Regions from separate parts of the Homo sapiens genome. Here all the other regions are linked to region 1. The links come from fine-mapping of genetic effects on gene expression. A gene starts in region 1. Each other region holds a variant in brackets. All regions are shown on one strand. Distances are between the middles of the regions. Region 1 holds the start of LAMTOR4 (late endosomal/lysosomal adaptor, MAPK and MTOR activator 4). Region 2 overlaps ZSCAN21 (zinc finger and SCAN domain containing 21). Region 3 overlaps AP4M1 (adaptor related protein complex 4 subunit mu 1).

The links. PIP is the estimated chance that this variant, and not a neighbour inherited with it, causes the effect. A credible set is the group of variants that fine-mapping cannot tell apart.
Region 2: its variant is the best candidate, but not a certain one, in a credible set for the expression of LAMTOR4 in monocytes (TOPMed, PIP 0.80).
Region 3: its variant is the best candidate, but not a certain one, in a credible set for the expression of LAMTOR4 in whole blood (TOPMed, PIP 0.88).

What each region holds. Positions count from the first base shown.
Region 1 is chr7:100,147,587-100,150,339 of GRCh38, forward strand. LAMTOR4 (late endosomal/lysosomal adaptor, MAPK and MTOR activator 4) reads left to right here and starts at 1,332. Exons shown (of 4, transcript NM_001008395.4): 1 at 1,332-1,389; 2 at 1,913-1,993. The coding sequence starts at 1,387. RefSeq lists enhancers at 335-947, 972-1,031, 1,302-1,411, 1,560-2,172 and silencers at 1,712-1,801, 1,812-1,901.
Region 2 is chr7:100,058,155-100,060,907 of GRCh38, forward strand. The region is part of intron 3 of ZSCAN21 (zinc finger and SCAN domain containing 21); the gene reads left to right. Among named protein-coding and RNA genes, the nearest start is that of ZSCAN21, 9.8 kb to the left of the region's middle. RefSeq lists an enhancer at 1,206-1,325. The variant G/GA (reference allele first, on the strand shown) is at 1,265.
Region 3 is chr7:100,105,463-100,108,215 of GRCh38, forward strand. It overlaps AP4M1 (adaptor related protein complex 4 subunit mu 1), which reads left to right. Exons shown (of 15, transcript NM_004722.4): 11 at 1-77; 12 at 497-541; 13 at 779-829; 14 at 941-1,052; 15 at 1,196-2,753. The coding sequence ends at 1,420. It overlaps TAF6 (TATA-box binding protein associated factor 6), which reads right to left. Exons shown (of 15, transcript NM_139315.3): 14 at 2,464-2,661; 15 at 1,608-2,161. The coding sequence ends at 1,784. Among named protein-coding and RNA genes, the nearest start is that of AP4M1, 5.2 kb to the left of the region's middle. RefSeq lists an enhancer at 1,885-2,385. The variant C/T (reference allele first, on the strand shown) is at 1,363.

The sequences.
Region 1 (2,753 bases):
AACAAAAATTTCTAATGTTTACATATATTGTGTGATGTGTGTGTGTGTGTGTGTGTGTGTGTGTGTGTGTATCATTCCAAGGTACTGTTTCTAATTTTTTCCTGTAGGGAATGAATATTCAGTATTGCAGCTGCATTGGCTAGCTGGGGATTCTATTTACCACCACATTGTCCCGGACTGAATCTGGGGACAAAAAAACCACTTCGGGAACAAATTCTTGTCTTCAACAAAGAGCTGTCTTGAGTAGGCACAAAAGTAGCATTTGAGGGCCGGACGCGGTGGCTCAAGCCTGTAATCCCAGCACTTTGGGAGGCCGAGGCGGGCGGATCACGAGGTCAGGAGTTTGAGACCAGCCTGGCCAATATGGTGAAACCCTATCTCTACTAAAAACACAAAAATAGCCGGGCGTGGTGGTGGGCGCCTGTAATCCCAGCTACTCGCGAGGCTGAGGCAGGAGAATTGCTTGAACACGGGAGGCGGAAGTTGTATTGAGCCAGAGATCGCGCCATTGCACTGCAACCTGGGCGACCGAGTGAGACTCCGACTCAAAAAAAAAAAAAAGTAGCATTTGAGTACCTTTTTTTTCCTTTTCTTTTCTTTTTTTTTTAGAGGAAGGGCACCCAGGCTGGAGTGCAGTGGCACCATAATAGCTCACTGCACTCTGCAACTGCTGAGCTCAAGAGATTCTCCTCCATCAGCCTCCCTAGTAGCTGGAATTACTGGCGTGAGGCACCATGCCCGGCTTATTTTCTTATTTTTTTGTAGAGGTGGTTGGAGCGGGGGGACTGGGGAGGGTCTCGCTATGTTGCTCAGGCTCGTCTCGAACTCTTGCCCTGAAATGATCCGTCCTCGGCCTCGCAAAGCGCTGAGATTACAGGCGTGAGCCACGGCGCCCAGCCTTGAATAGTTTTTCACATGCATTGCACGTTATTTCCTTTTATTCTCTAGTTTTTGGGTCCAGTCTTAAACCTGGGAAGGGATTCATTTGGGGGGGTCACACCAGCGGGCATCCTGGCTCAGGCGGAACTCTGGCTCCAGACAGTGCGCCCAGGACCAAACGGTCAACCCCGGCCTACTCCCGCCCCTCCCAGATCCTCCCCTCCTCGGACGCTCCCGCGTCTTCCTCTCGCTCAGGCACTGAGGGGCGGGGAGATGGGTGTTAAAGAGGGGATATCACCAATCAACGTGCGCCTCCGGGAAACAGCGCTTCGCACTGGCTGGTTGGGTCTGACGACGTGGCCACTGTCCAATCCTCATGCTAGAGGCGGGGCTAAAGGCCAGTGGCGCAAGCAGAAGGAGGAGCGCAGCGGCTGCAAGCACGTGACCGGGGCCTGAAGCCGGAAGCTACCTATCTGGTAGGGAGCTCCCCCAGCACCGAAGACTGCGATGGTGAGTGAGGACGCATGCGCGAGAGGACCCGCCGGGGGTTCAGCGTCTCTGCTCCCCAGTCTGTGTGGTTTCCCCCTGGTGGGCCTGCGCTCCACCCTCACCTCCTATCCGCTCGGGGAGGAAGAGGGGATGGAAATGGGAGGGATGGCGACGAGAATGCTGGGGAGGGGTCTGTGGGAGGGTGTTCTGGGGCTGCGGGTAGTCTGCAGGTCGGGCGGAGACGAAGGGAGGTGAAGAGAGGGTCTGGGGGCAGGGGCCAGTGGGGCAGCAAAGGCCCCTTGGGGTAGCAAAGGTGGGATGTGGAAGGCCAGGGGAGCCCGGGGGCGAGAGTGGGGGCAGATGGAGGCTCGGGAAGATCAGTATTGAGGACCATGTAGGGGGGAGGGGGCCGGGAAGGGACCTGGCTGGGGAATGAGAAAACCTGGGGCCATCGTCAACCCAGAGACTTGGGTTTGCAGGTGAAGGGTATCGGGCCGTCCATCCCTCTAGCATGCTTCTCACGACTTGCATCTTTACCCACTAGACTTCTGCGCTGACCCAGGGGCTGGAGCGAATCCCAGACCAGCTCGGCTACCTGGTACTGAGTGAAGGTGCAGTGCTGGCGGTGCGTTCTGGGAAAGGGAGGGGGTCCCTTAGTGCACACAGCCCGGTAACCCCTTCTAATATTGGCCCTTCTTTTCTCGGCTTTTATCTGGTTTCCTGCCTGGCATCTATTAGGTTGGTACAAAAGTATTTGCAGTTTTTGCAATTACTTTCAGTAATCAGTCTGTGGAATCTTAGTCTCCTAACGGCTGCGATTTATTTATTTATAGTTTTTGAGACTGAGTTTCGTTCTTGTTGCCCAAGCTGGAGTGCAGTGGTGCGACCTCGGCTCACTGCAACCTCCGCCTCCGGGGTTCAAGCGATTCTCCTGCCTCAGCCTCCCGAGTAGCTGGGATTATAGGCACGTGCCACCATGCTCTGCTAATTTTTTGTATTTTTAGTAGAAACGGGGTTTCACCGTGTTAGCCAGGCTGGTCTCAAACTCCTGACCTCAGGTGATCCACCTGCCTCAGCCTCCCAAAGTGCTGGGATTACAGGCGTGAGCCAACATGCCTGGCCTTTATTTGGTATTTCTTAAAAAGGCATTTGTATTTTGTTCCATAGTACTGTATGGTGTTAGGTCTCTAGATTACAGGCGTGAGCCACCACGTCTGGCCTTTATTTGGTATTTCTTAAAGAGGCATTTGTATTTTGTTCCATAGTACTGTATAGTGTTAAGTCTCCAGATGTTTTTGACTTAGGTAGAGACAAAGCTTAAGGTTAAGGGTTGAAAACAATACAGGTGGTAAAGACTATTGAGGGAATCCAGGATATTAAAAATT
Region 2 (2,753 bases), 89 kb before region 1:
ATGAGTTTAAAAAAGAAACTGTTAACAGAGGTGTAGAGACTTCAAATGAACCAATAAGGAATAGTGTTGCACCAGACAACAGTGAAAAGCTGTTACTCCCTGTGAGCCTAAAGGGACAGAGGGGGACCCTCTTACCAGAATCAGGTAAGAGCTATAGTCATGGAGGAGGGGGTCACTTGATAGAAGTTGTGGCTGTAGGCCCTGCTGTGGGATGAGGAGAAAACGGAATAAATACCCCAACTGCACCCTCCTCCTGCCCTTAAATCTCCTGCTTTTGTTCCCCAATGACAAACTCAGTTGGCAGCCAGAGGGCAGGAAAGACAAGACAGTGCAGCCCTTAGGGTCAGCTTCCTGGGGCACAGGGCGGGTCAGAGAATGGATCTGAGAAGGGCAAATGGGAAATAATTGGCAACCTCCTTTCTGAAGCTATGGAAAGAGGTGGGGCATTTTTCACAAGTCAAAGCTGTATTAGGTGACTACTCCTGAGCTCAAATCTCCATATATTATGGTTTATAGAATAATCTCAGGCCATAAATGGTCATCCCCTGTGGGGGTGTTTTTGTGTGTTTTTCTGAGACAGGGATTCCATCCGTCATCCAGGCTGGAGGGCAGTGGCGTGATCATAGCTCACTGCAGCCTCAATCTCTGGGGCTCAAATGATCCTCCCACCTCAGCCTCCCAAGTAGCTGGGACCACCATGTCTGGCTAACTTTATTTTTTTGTACAGACAGGGTCTCACTATGTTGCCCAAGCTGGCCCTATGTTATTTTGTTATTTTATGGGTTCTACTCTTAAGTACCTTCATTTACCAGAAGGATTAGAACTAAATCTTTGAAACAGAGTTAATGTTTAATTATATGTTTGCAAAAATATGGCATATTATTCCAAATCCTAATAGTTTCAAACCAGGACTTTGCTTACGTGTTGGTGGTGTAGACCACTATTTATGTGTGTGGTGTGATTTCATGACAAGAGTCCATGGCCCTCAGAAATCTCCCTCCATGCTTGCTGTGTCTGAAACGTGAAACTCCATCATGGAAACAGAGTTTCGAGCCGGTTAAAAATCACATTTTCTAGGAAAAGTAAAAAATTAAACTGTTAGCTAAATTCTTCATGGTTTATGGTGAACACAGTAGACCTCTCCAGGCAATTGGGGTTTCCCCAGAGTTGCCACAGTAATTAGAGATAAAAATAGCCGGAGACCTATCTGGTCAGTTTTATTTTCCATATCTCTTGGTGTAGCCCCTTGGCAGTATTACACAAA[G/GA]AGGAGGGTGGAGTGGAAGGATTATCAGAGCCAGGAACAGGCTTGGGTTTTAGTACCCAGATGGGACAGAAGACAAAGCTGCTGGGCCCTCCTAAGGAAAGGGAAGTTGGCTGTGAAAGCTTTGCATAAAGTCTTTTTTTTTTTTTTTTTTTTGAGACGGAGTCTCCCTCTGTTGCTAGGCTGGAGTGCATTTATGCAATCTCGGCTCAGTGCAACCTCTGCCTCCCAGGTTCAAGAGATTCTCCTGCCTCAGCCTCCCGAGTAGCTGGAACTACAGGTGCACACCACCACGCCCAGCTCTTTTTAAAAAAACAGAGTTTCGGTCTTGTTGCCCAGGCTGGAGTGCAGTGGCGCTATATCGGCTCACCGCAACCTCCGCATTCCAGTTTCAAGTGATTCTCCTGCCTCAGCCTCCCGAGTAGCTGGGATTATAGGCTTCTGCTACCATGCTCGGCTAATTTTTGTATTTTTGGTAGAGACAGGGTTTCACCATGTTGGCCAGACTGGTCTCGAACTCCTGACCTCATGATCCGCCCTCCTCGGCCTCCCAAAGTGCTGGGATTACAGGCGTGAGCCACCACGCCCAGCCAAGAAACTGTTAATAAAAACACAAACAGGCACCTTTGACAGAAACAAAATAGAATTTCTAAAAGTGAAAACTGTAGTCATTGAAATGAAGAATGCAATGGCTGTTTTAAATAATGAAGGACATGATTAGCAAACAGAGGTAGATGGAAGGAAGTCATCTGAAATGCTACTTAGAAAGATCAAGGTGGCAGGCATTGGACATCAGTGTGGGATCAGATGAGAAGGTCCAGTGTATGTTTAATAGCTGTTCCAGAGGAGGCGGAAAGAGTTGGAGAGGGCAGACATGATGGCTCACACCGGTCATCCCAGCACTTTGGGAGGCCGAGGAGGGCGGATCATGAGGTCAGGAGATGGAGACCATCCTGGTCAACATGGTGAAACCCCATCTCTACTAAAAATACAAAAATTAGTTGGGCGTGGTGGCATGCACCTGTAGTCCCAGCTACTCAGGAGGCTGAGGCAGGAGAATCGCTTGAAGCCAGGAGGCGGAGATTGCAGTGAGCCAAGATCGCGCCATTGCACTCCAGCCTGGCAACAGAGTGAGATTCCATCTCAAAAAATAAAAAAAAAACCAGACTGGCTGGGCATGGTGGCTCACGCCTGTAATCCCAACACTTCGGGAGGCTGAGGCAGGCGGATCACCTGAGGTCAGGAGTTTGAGACCAGCCTGGCCAACATAGTGAAACTCCATCTCAACCGGGCATGGTGGCACGTGTTGTCCCTGGGACCTGTAGTCCCAGCTACTCGGGAGGCTGAGGCAGGGGAATCGCTTGAACTTGGGAGGCAGAGGTTGCAGTAAGTCAAGATCGCGCCACTGCACTCCAGCCTGGCGCAACAGAGTAGGACTCCGTCAAAAAAAAAAAAAAAAAAAACATTTCTACTAAAAATACAAAAATTAGTC
Region 3 (2,753 bases), 42 kb before region 1:
CAACTCTCCGATGACCTCCCCTCACCGCTCCCCTTCCGGCTCTTCCCCTCTGTGCAGTGGGACCGAGGCTCAGGCCGGTGAGACAATTTCCTGGGTTCTAGAACTACCTTGGAACCCAAGCCAAGACCTGTATGTTCCCAAGACTCACTGCAGAGTGGGGGTGGTGGTAGTGGTGATGGAGTGCAAATTGGAAAAAGGCTTGGGTTGCGGCCGGTGGCTCACACCTGTAATCCTAGCACTTTGGGAGGCTGAGGCGGGAGGATCACTTGAGCCCAGGAGTTCCAGACCAGCCTGGGCAACATAGTGAGACCCCATCTCTCTGAAAAAAAAAAAAAGGAAAAAGCTTTGGCTAATGGAGTTGGGCTGGGCTTCAGCCCTTTTCCCTCTTGGGAGTACAGCCCACACCCACACAGCCCCACATGGAGGTCCCTGGTGGGGAATGGTGAGATGCCAGTAGAAGATGGCCTGAGTCGTGGTGTTTTACCCTCTCATCCAGGCTCCAGGTTTATCTAAAGTTGCGATGTGACCTGCTCTCAAAGAGGTAAGAGTGAGGCTGGCCTGGCTGAGTTCAGCTCTATGGGACGGAAGACAGGGCCAGGGCACCTGCTGCTTCTCCCTTCAGATGCAGCTGCCAGCCTCAGAAGCCAGTTAAGGTAGAGGCTGTAGAATTTGGGAAGGTGGGGGGCACCTGTGCTGAAATCCTGTTATGACATTGAAGAGGAACAGGACAAGGGACTGTGCCTTCCTGGGGCTGACTTTGTTCCCGTCTCCTCTGTAGCCAAGCCCTCAATGTCAGGCTGCACCTCCCCCTGCCTCGAGGGGTGGTCAGGTGAGTGTGTGCACCCACCACGGGGAGATTCCTGGGGAGAGAGTGAGCTCAGCATGACGGGTCTGCCTCAAGAAGGTGCCAAGCCCAGCACCTTCCCTTTCCAAACTCCAGCCTGTCTCAGGAGCTGAGCAGCCCAGAGCAGAAGGCTGAGCTGGCAGAGGGAGCCCTTCGCTGGGACCTGCCTCGGGTGCAAGGAGGCTCTCAACTCTCAGGCCTTTTCCAGGTATTCGCTGTGGACCCCCAGCCCCTCTCCTCCCACATTCACTTGCAGCCCCCACCCCACCCTCCCGAAGCAGCTGCTGCCTGGTTCCCCCAGCGTGGTCAGCTTCTTGCCCTCCTTCCTCTCCCTGCCTCTGCCCCTCACAGATGGACGTCCCAGGGCCCCCAGGACCTCCCAGCCATGGGCTCTCCACCTCGGCCTCTCCTCTGGGGCTGGGCCCTGCCAGTCTCTCCTTCGAGCTTCCCCGGCACACGTGCTCTGGCCTCCAGGTCCGATTCCTCAGGCTGGCCTTCAGGCCATGCGGCAATGCCAA[C/T]CCCCACAAGTGGGTGCGACACCTAAGCCACAGCGACGCCTATGTCATTCGGATCTGAGGCTCCCCAAACGAGGACACGACGGCCAAGGTGGCAGTTTGTCCCACGGGAGGACAGTCGTTTCTTTTCCAGCCTCCTGGCCTTCGGACTCTGAATCTGGGCAGGAAGAGTCCTCAGTCCCAAGACCAGGAGGGGGCAATGGGCCCAGCCTTTCTGTGGTATCTGATGCAGGAAGGACTGCAGTGGATCAGAACTTACAAACCAAACTTTTATTCTGAGAAACTGGCTGTACAATATCTAAAAAGAAAGTGACATGAAGGAAGCAATCTACAACTTCCTTCCGCTTAGCGAGCATGCATGTGTGTACGTGCACGTGTGTACATGTCTGCATGTGTGGGAATCCGGGGGCTGGCAGGTGGAGCATCACGGAGCAGGCTGAGGGGAGCCGGAGTTGGGCTGGGAGCCATTGGCTTTTGGAGTCCCTGGAGCTGGAGGGGGACTGTCCCCAGCCTCCTGCTTCCCCCCACAAAGGGCACTGCCGCTGAGTGGGGACGGGGACGATGCCGGGGGAGGAACTGGAGAAGGATGGGAGGTGGGGCCTCCTTTGCCCTCCCCTGTTGGGGGAAGTGAGACCACGATGTACTTCTGGACACTCCCAGGACCAGAGGGAGCAGTGCTGGGGGGTGCGGTGGTGGCGGTGGAGACCAACTTGACGATGGGCTGCACGCTGGGGACGGTGGTGGTGACGGGCGAAGTGGTGGTGGAACCTGAGCCGGGGGCCGAGGTGCTGAGGGACAGGACCTGGATAGAAAGGAAAGGCAGGCCGCTTGCCCTGTGCCCTCCCTGCCCCCCAGAGGCCTGGCGAGGACGCTTCACTCGCTCCCTGCCTGAACAAGTTGTTCCTGTAGTTCACCCTGTAGACAGCTATGGCTGGAGACCTTGTTCATGCAGGGCAGCTACAGCCCTGCAGGACCCTGGTGGGCGCCTCTTCCAGCTCTTGACTTGGGGCCCAGAGGGGACTGTGCTCTACTCCTGGGCCTCCCCAGGGTGCTCTGAGGTAACCCAGGCCCTCCAGATGCTCCCTGTCCCACAGCTCTGCATACCTGCTGGGTGGATGGGGCGCTGGAGGACGATGACATTACAATAAACTTGGTTGGAGGAGGGGAAGGCTGTGGTGGGGCAGCCGCTCGTGCAGACACCAGTGTCTGGACAGGAAGTGCGATGGAGCCAGGAACCTTCAGCAAGCCAGGGGTGCGAGGGCCAGGCTGTGGGGCCTGCGAGAGGGTCAGCGTGGGCCGGGGCTGCGGGGAGAAGAGGAAAGGGGGAAGTGGCACCATCTACTAAGAAGAGGAGTCTGAAGGGAGAGGCCTGGGCTCCCCTCGCTCTTCCTCAG